Homo sapiens: one gene and its partner. The protein of the gene in region 1 purifies or fractionates together with the protein of each later gene. This does not show direct contact. Each region holds a gene or a part of one and is shown in the gene's direction. Other genes may lie near its edges.

Region 1 (5,922 bases):
TGAACAATACACAGAAGACAGATTTGCCGTATAGCCACTAAATGCATGGCTCAGGTAGCCCAACCCCAATGAGAGGCAAGAATTCTACTGAAAGTAAGTCTGTAGCACTGGAAAATAAACGACCATTTCCATGTTTCTGAGTTTACAGACTTTTTTGGAACAACTGTTTCACTTTAATACAATAAAAGATAGGAGAAGTCTAAATACCCCAAAGAGGGTATTGTTCTTAGAGAATTCAATAAATGTATATTTGAATTGGTTTCTACTTAGGTAAATTCCTCTTAATATGAAAAATGGAACGAGATCATAGAATCCCTTCTCCAGGCTTGTAATGTGTCCTGATTTAATAGGGACACCAACGTGCAAATCAGGATCTTCATAGTGCATCTCCAGGACTATTTTTGCTGCTATGCTTCATAAAACTTTGATTTACTAGAATTTCCAGGGGCAATGGGAAGAGATGAAGCTACCCAGAGCAGTTATGTCTCTTCCTGACCTTCTATAAAGGACTTTGAGTTCCCAGGCCTTCCCTGGAAAATCACTGTCAGTACTACCTGACCCAATATCCCCAGTGACCTGAAACTCATGGGAAGTTGGGAAGGGGTGATAATAAAGGTTTGGGGAGCACTGGACTAGGCAAGCAGTAACTACATCTAAATTCTGCAAGAAATCATTAGCTGAGGAATACTGAATAAGTATGGCAATTATCATGGCAAGTATTTGCAGTGGTGGTATAGGGGGTGATCTGGACGTCCAGGAAGACAGTCGCCCTTGTTTATTTACATGAAAACCTCTCTTCTCCCATCTAAATTTAATCTCCTGAATGGCAAAAGCATTTCCTTCTGTCTTAGCATCGTCCATATTCACCACGAGTCCTTGCATAGGAGAGATTGGTGTATACATGATGACAACCTGACGAAAATTATCTCCACCTCACCTGAAAAGAATTCCCATCTCAGGATTACAACTGGCCTTTTCATTTGTCTTTGGTCTTGCTAGGTGGTACGTATATTCTAGTAATGAGATTAGGGTCACAGGATATTTTAATCATTCATACGGTTGTATGAAGACACACATGTTTATTTGTAGTTATTCTTTGTCCATCAAACTTACAGTAGTCCTCAGTCTAATGCTTGTTTTCTTAATGTTGGAGGGTGATGACAGCCTATTTTATCTCAGGCTGAAAAACTAATACAATTAAATCAGAGAATCATAGCAGGGAACAGTCATCGTGTTCTACGAATAGCCAGACATTTTTACCAAGGGGTCACTTTCCTGAAACCTGTTTGCGGTTCTCTGTAAATAGAAGTAACTAGGCAGATGTAATAAGCCTAATAGCTCACTGAGGTGGGAATTCTCTGCCTTTGGATTCTGATTGTTACTGCCTTGCTTTGGCTTAGGCATGGATAAACTCTTCTGTGGTGAACAAAAATGGCCTCCAGCCAACCTGGTGGGAGACTTCCCTATCTGACCTCCAACCTTCCCTCGTCTTCCCAGACGAGGGGTAGAAAAGTAGCCCTCACTCCTCCACTCCCAGGAAATGTGCATTTCCCTGCAAGAGGAGAGACAATAAAATTTGGTTTGATAGCTGACACTATTCCCTGTTACTTTTCAGATTTTATTAAAATTAAATGTGTTAATTCTTTGTTCTTTCACCCCAGGGCAATTCTGGAAAGAAAACATATCTTAAGATTGAACAGAAAAACTATTATGAAAAACACCAAGCTCACATTTGTTAAATGACTTTGTGCTCTTGAAAAAAATGTATAAAAAGCACATTGCCAACTGCTCTGCGTGATATCCTTTGTTTGGATTTTAGACGCAGCTTGACTGACACAGAGATCCTGAATAAGAGACTCTTTGGATACTGAAAAGTCTCTTAAATAAGGTGATACACAAATTTCAGAGAACAATTTCAACATTGTTCTGTCGAACGTTATACTCAGTCCTGAACCACATTACTTTCCTGTCTACGTTTCATTTCCTGGGGGCTTGCCAAGTGATAAACAGACCCAGGCGTGTGTGGTAGAGTTCGGGTTTTTTAGCACGAAGTGGGTGGCTGGAGTTTGCTTGAAAACATCAATTGACTTTGTGATCATTACAGAAATGCTGGTGTAAGGTGTTCAGAAGACAATGGAGAAAAAATGGAAATACTGTGCTGTCTATTACATCATCCAGATACATTTTGTCAAGGGTAAGACTTCCAGTTGTCCCTTCTTGTCGGATGGGCCGCTTTAGGGGCGGATGGGGCCTCTGTTCATTTAAAATGCCTTGTGACTGCTGCTGAAATTGATCACCAAAGGACAAATCATTACTAAGGGTTTCAGTTATGTATTTAAGCGGCAGGTATAAGAGAGATGCTAGAATCTAGAAATGATTACTAATGAACACTAAAAATAAGAAGGGAATGGGTCATTTGTGCCACTGCTCTGAGGCATTTTCACCCATTTCCTTTCTAACAGGATCTCTGGAGTAATTGGCAAATTGTGTTTCTTGGAAATGAAATGCTCTCCAAATGGTAGCCAAAACAACTGCGGAAAAATTAAAAATTACAAAGCCATCAACGCTCAGAGATCCTTGTTTAACTTTTTTCTCTCTCAAGTACTCTCTTTCTTTTGGATATAACAAGTATTTCTCATCCAAATACTAAGGTCTTTGGGAGTTGAAAACACGTTGAATTTTAATGAGGCATGTGTAGGTATGAACCTGGGAGACAAAGTGGAATCCTTATGACAGTGGGAACGAGAGCCTAATGGGCCTATTTAAAAAGAGAAGGAAGCAAGATTAGTTCTGTATTCCACAGTATGAGAGTATCATAGTAAGCCTGAGTGTCTTAAGAATTAACTGTGCTTTTCAGACATAGCTATGAAAATATTAAGGAGAATTTCTAAATCAAAAGAGATTTGGAATATAATGCTGTAGATAGGATCAGAGCCATATTTTCAGGCAAAGGATAGCTCACAGGAAGTTACATTAAACTGTACTAACCTCTGCCTACCAAACTTTTGCATCCACAGAAGTATGATAATTCCCATTTGTCAAGTACTTTTACTTTTAAGAGGCTTGTTTCTTCTCAGTTGCTTGTCATCTTTTTATCTTTTCCTTTTGTGAGCTTCAGTGGTACTTGTCACAATAATATATATCATTTCTGTAACAGGATTCCATGTTAATTCTAAAACTGAGGCCAACACTATTGAAGGCATGTCACAGTCTCAATGCTTAACACATTTTAAGTGTCCTGTATCACTCAGTCAGACTGCTGATGGGAAAGAGACTCTACTTATGTCTAGTATTTCAGACCATCGATTAGAGGTGATACTAAGTGGAACCTCTACCTAAGGTTAGATGAGGTCCTTTCAATCCTTGTATATTGAAAGTGAAATTTCTTACTCTAATCAACTAGACTGAATTTGGGAGACAGTTTGGAAGTTATGTGGAAGGAAAATAAAATAAAATAAGTAATAATAAAGTTTAAAATAATAAGCATAACATAGGTAATAGTTAACATTAAGTATAGGTTACTTAGAAGTTATATGTAGGCTAAGAAATTTAAGTAGCCCCTCCCAGCATTGCTAACAAGTTGCAGCTGTGAGCTTATCTCAACCTTCCAAGCTTCTTGCCTGCCCCCAGACCCCCACATATTTCTGTAACTCCTGTTTTACCTTACCCCATCTCTGTCTAGCTTCAAGATTGACTGGTTAAGATAACTAAATTGTAAGTTTTCTCAGAATTGTCACGGGTTAAATAATTTACTGTCTTTGCCTGAAACCTGTATCCTGCCTTGTTTTCCCACCTCAAACGACATATAAGCAAGCCTGCTTTCTTTGTCAGAGTCAGCAGCCATTTTGGGCATGAGTCTGCTGTGGGCCTGGATGCCTGAATTAAATAAAGTTCTCTTTGGTCTCTAAAGGTCTCTTTGTCTTCCTTGGCTGGAGTTTTACTGTTATACTTATGAGGGTTATAGAAAGACCACAGACTCTGGGCAACTGAATTCATTCTTTTACTGGAGGTGTGACTTTTTTTGTTTTGTTTCGTTTTTCGTTTTTTTGAGATGGAGTCTCACTCTGTTGCCAGGCTGGAGTGCAGTGGCATGATTTCGGCTCACTGTAATCTCCGCCTCCCAGGTTCAAGCGATTCTCCTGCTTCAGCCTCCCAAGTAGCTGGGACTACAGGCGTGCACCACCACGCCCAGCTAATTTTTGTATTTTTAGTAGAGACGGGGTTTTGCCGTGTTGGCCAGGATGGTCTGGTTCTCTTGACCTCATGATCTGCCCACCTCAGCCTCCCAAAGTGCTGGGATTACAGGCGTGAGCCACTGCGCCAGGCCTGGAGGTGTGACTTTGAGCATACTGTTTCATCTCTCTGTGGCCCAGTTTCTTCCTCATAAAAAGGGGTTAACAACATCACCTATGGCGTGTGAGGGGGATTAAACAAGATAAGATATGAAAGGCCCTTGTAAACATGTATTTTTCAAAGAAATTGCTATACACATATCATTTATTTTTGCAGTTTCAGAAAGCATCACGTGTGTATTATATTCAGCTGTCGTTTTATAACCCAAAAAGCCAATTATATTAAACGTAAGAAGAATCGTCATACTAAGTTTGCTGGTGTGCTTCAATTTTCAAATAGGCTTAATTTTATTCACAGGTAGTCTGAAACCTTCAATTATATTTTGGTCAGACCAACACATAGATAAATATTTAGAAGTCAGTAATTACCTCTAGCTTCTCTACGTAAATGCCTCCTCATTTATATTGTCTCATGCATCTCTATCTGAGTGAGACACAAGCTCTACTCTATTCCTAAAGCAGCCAGGGAGAAATTTCCTCAGTTGCTCCCCTCACCTTACTGAAGTGACTAGGGTTTTTAATTAAGCGTCATTCTATGTGAATTATTTAAACTCATGGCTCATGTTCTTTCTTTTCAGGAGTTTGGGAAAAAACAGTCAACACAGAAGAAAATGTTTATGCTACACTTGGCTCTGATGTCAACCTGACCTGCCAAACACAGACAGTAGGCTTCTTCGTGCAGATGCAATGGTCCAAGGTCACCAATAAGATAGACCTGATTGCTGTCTATCATCCCCAATACGGCTTCTACTGTGCCTATGGGAGACCCTGTGAGTCACTTGTGACTTTCACAGAAACTCCTGAGAATGGGTCAAAATGGACTCTGCACTTAAGGAATATGTCTTGTTCAGTCAGTGGAAGGTACGAGTGTATGCTTGTTCTGTATCCAGAGGGCATTCAGACTAAAATCTACAACCTTCTCATTCAGACACACGGTAAGCATAACTGGTAGAGGGATGTGCTTTCATTCAGCTCTCTCTCATTCAACAAATGTACATTTTAAGAAAAGCAAGGTTAGGCTTGGTGCTCAGCATACAAAGGTTGAGCAGAAAGAGCTACTGTCTGATAAGAGAGACAGGAAGTGACCACAGCATTTAAGTAAATAAATGTAAACTTGCAACAGTGATAAGTGTCGATAATAAATACTGTAACAGTCTTGTGAAGGAGCACATCACAGAGGCCATTGAAATTGTCCTTTAGAAATTAACACCATAGCTTAAGTCTAAAGAATGAGTAGACACTACCACAATTTAGGAGGTGGGGCTGAGGCAGAGTGGGATTGTGAGTAATCCCAGAGAGAGAAAAGAGCTTGCATGAAGCTCTTTGGAGTGTTTGAAGAAATGGGAAAATGCCAGTGGGACAGCAATACAGCAATTAAAGGATAAGGCAGGTAAGGACCAGATCATGTTGGACCTGGTCAGCTTCCCTTTTAAAAGGTTTCTATTTTGATCTCAGAACCATAAGAAGACATGGAAGTATTTCCAACAAAAGGATGGCATGACATTTATAGGCTGACTGTATTTGTGTTGTTTAAAAAAAAAAAGTCATACTGACTTTCATGTGAAAATGA
Region 2 (3,500 bases), on another chromosome or scaffold:
AAAGTTTGCTTTTCCCACGTGGCCTAATATAATTTTGCTCAGAATTTCCCCAGCCCAGTATATTACACACCTGAAGTAGTCCCTGAGAAAACTAGATGTCCAGGTGAAGCAAGACTTTAACGGATGTATGGGTGGAATGCAGTGTATGTGTTTTAAGTCTTACTTCTCTGTGTGGTTATTTTTAAGCTTACAGGGATCTTCAGACCAGGGAAGACATACGGAATGCAGCATGGCACAAACATGGCTGGGAGGAATTGGTATATTACACAGGTAATCTCTTAACAGCCATGAAATATGCTTTTTGTCTTACTGTTTCAATCATGTTCTTTCACCCTGACACTAATAGGTGGGTTTTGTAATAGTATGTTGCTAGGATAGTGAGTTATCAGGTTGTGGGGGGAAGGGAGATAGTCAATTTTTCTCTAATACTTACATGACTTTTTTTCAATAAAGTAGAATATCCATGCTTTCAAATAGGTATATCATCTGTTACAGTTTTCAGACCCTTGGATGTTGTAAATTTTACATCATTACCTGTTTTTGTAGATTTCTATATTCTCTGAAAACTTATTACACAAATAAAATTTTTTTCTAAGCTTTCCTTTTCCATCAGAATTGTTAGTATCCCAAATCAGAACTTAATACATCAATTAAAGAGTGATTTTGAAATTAGATAAATTAAACTTCCTGTATGTACAGTATGTATCTGGGTACATAATACATGCATGTGCACATACATAAGTATATTATGAAACCCTGTTTGCTTGATTTTTAAAAGAAAACAGTTGGCTGAATGTAACCCAGTGGCATTGGTAGAGGTAATCAGTACCAGCCATGTTGCATGGCAAGTATATTTCAGGCCGGGCGCAGTGGCTCACGCCTGTAATCCCAGCACTTTGGGAGGCTGAGGTGGGCAGATCACCTGAGGTCGGGAGTTCGAGACCAGCCTGACGAACATGATGAAACCTGTCTCCATTTGAGAGACTGAGGCAGGAGAATCGCTTGAACCTGGGAGGTGGAGATTGTGCCACTGCACTCCAGCCTGGGTGACAGAGCAAGAATCCGTCTCAAAAAAAAAAAAGTGTATCTCAGCCCCTATACTACCAAGAAAATAAAAGAGTAATTTGTCCTAGAAAGTAGGTGTTACCTTGTCTTTCAGTTCAAGAGATTATATAACATATAATTACATGTTATAATTATATAATTGTATTTGATTTTGCTGCTTACGCGAACGTTTGAGAAATCACCATTTCTCCTCACAGTATGGACTTTTCCTACCTCCCACAAATAAAACAAATATCCAGGTAGGATCTGTTTTTTTTTTTTTTTTTTTTTTTTTTGAGACGGAGTCTTGTTCTGTCGCCAGGCTGGAGTGCAGTGACGCGATCTCGGCTCACTGCAACCTCCGCCTCCCGGTTTCAAGCGATTCTCCCGCCTCAGCCTCCTGAGTAGCTGGGATTACAGGCAGGCGCCACCACACCCAGCTAAGTTTTGTATTTTTACTAGAGACAGGGTTTCACCCTGTTGGCCAGGATGGTCTCGATTTCCTGACCTCGTGATCCACCTGCCTCAGCCTCCCAAAGTGCTGGGATTACAGGTGATCTGCGCCCAGCTGATCTGTTGTAATTTTAATAGCATCTTGTAGGATGGCAGCTGATACAGGGTCCGCTTGTATATTTCTGCCCTTGAGGTTAGTCCTGTATATTATGATATTCTCTTGTTTTCAAGCAGCACATCTGTGAACATTCTCGGCAATCTGTCTGTTAGTGTCATTTACCATAATGTGTTTAGAAAGTAACAAGTGCAGTAACCCTGATCTTGTTTTCAGTTCCACTTATTCAGGAAATGGAATCCAGAATCATGATCCCACTGAAGACCTCGCCCCTCCAGTAAAGCTGTAGAGTTTCTATGTGCCTACATACATTTCTGTGACAAGTATTTGTCGTAAATTAATTTTAATTGTGTATCAAGTGAAAAAGAAACACTGAGGTTTTAAGCTGCTGTATATAGCTTGTGAGAAACCTCTTTTCTTTAAAATTTACATAATCACAAGAAAGGAAAGAATTACAGTTGGACTGATTGTGACAGTGCCTTGTCGTCCTCTTTGAAACACCCCGTGTTGTCCAGTATACCTTATAACACTGAGCCACTTCTCCCCACCCTCCAGAAGGGGTCCACGTTGAATTCTGAATCATCTTGAAAATAAGATTCCAACCACAAAAAAAATTTAGCCATTTCTTTACTAAAAAAAACCAAAAAACAAATCTGTTTTATAATCACAGATTTTTAGACAAATTTCTTGTATCAGGAAGAAATACAAATTTTGTCATGTTTCTCAAGCAGTTTTTCTGAGTAGTTTCTGAGGAGGAACAAATTACAAGTGTACCCAATAACTGAAAATGTTTTAACTCACTCTCATTTGTAAGCAGTCCACATAGTAGACAATGGGTTTTCCAAGCTGGGCAAGGTACATTTAATCAGTAAATCAGTTTCACATCATGTATTGTGATGTTTCAATGTGAGACACAAAAACAATGGCTTGAAACTTGTGTATCATATGTGATTTTGAAATGAACACCTTGAATAGCACTAATTTTTATTTGTGGTATTTTTCTATAACAAAACAAGTAGCTCTAGGAAAAGAGGTTTTATTTTGTAAACGATCATTTGTGACCTCAGACACTCTCTGGCTAATATTTTAATAAGCTCACAGCAGATAATTCTGAGATCATGGGTGAGGGGTGGTGCATGTTGAGATTTAAATTGGCATAAAGCTGCATACTTTTTGTCTAGCTGTTTGATTTCATTTTTTAATATAGTATGCCAATTTTGTGACTGTTACCATGTGAAAGTCCTGTTGAAATGAACAATTGTCTGCCCCACAATCAAGAATGTATGTGTAAAGTGTGAATAAATCTCATATCAAATGTCAAACTTTTACATGTGAATGATTTTCTCAAAGAACATAGAAAAGTCAATAAAATCCTCTTAATTTCCACATATCACGTTTGGATTTTCTTTTTTAATTTGTTCTGAGATTGACAAACATTGCTGTGAATGACCTTGTCACTCTTGCAAAATAGCTTGTCACAAAAGATTGAAGGAAGTGAGGAAGTCAGCTGGCTTCTGGGGAAAATCCCTCCATAGGAACAAATTACGAGGCCCTGGGCAAGGTCATGCCTGGTATGTGCTGAGGGCAGCAGAAGCCAGTGGCAGAAGCAGACATGAGGGAGAGTGTGGTGGGACACGAGCTCAGAGGTCACAGGGCTGGATCCCTTGAGTGTTGGAGGCCATTAGAAAGACCCTAGTGGCCGGGCCCAGTGGCTCACACCAGTAATTCCAACACTTTGGGAGGCCGAGGCCAGAGGATCCCTTGAACGCAGGAGTTTGAGACCAGCCTGGGCAACATGAATGAAACCTCATCTCTACAAAAAATCGAAAAATTAGTTGGGCATGGTAGCATGTGCCTGTAGTCCCAGCTACTCAGGAGGCTGAGGCAG

Evidence for each region.
Region 2: the proteins of CD96 (region 1) and NIPSNAP2 purify together in Homo sapiens (affinity purification with mass spectrometry, with the first as the bait; one large-scale study listed by BioGRID). This does not show direct contact.

Annotation. Positions count from the first base shown.
Region 1 is NC_000003.12:111,540,116-111,546,037, forward strand, and holds the start of CD96 (T-cell surface protein tactile isoform 2 precursor), read left to right. Parts: upstream 1-2,081; 5' UTR 2,082-2,133; coding exon 2,134-2,194; intron 2,195-4,930; coding exon 4,931-5,287; intron 5,288-5,922. UniProt on the Homo sapiens protein: May be involved in adhesive interactions of activated T and NK cells during the late phase of the immune response. Promotes NK cell-target adhesion by interacting with PVR present on target cells.
Region 2 is NC_000007.14:55,997,180-56,000,679, forward strand, and holds the end of NIPSNAP2 (protein NipSnap homolog 2), read left to right. Parts: intron 1-186; coding exon 187-270; intron 271-1,828; coding exon 1,829-1,893; 3' UTR 1,894-3,000; downstream 3,001-3,500. UniProt on the Homo sapiens protein: Protein involved in mitophagy by facilitating recruitment of the autophagy machinery required for clearance of damaged mitochondria.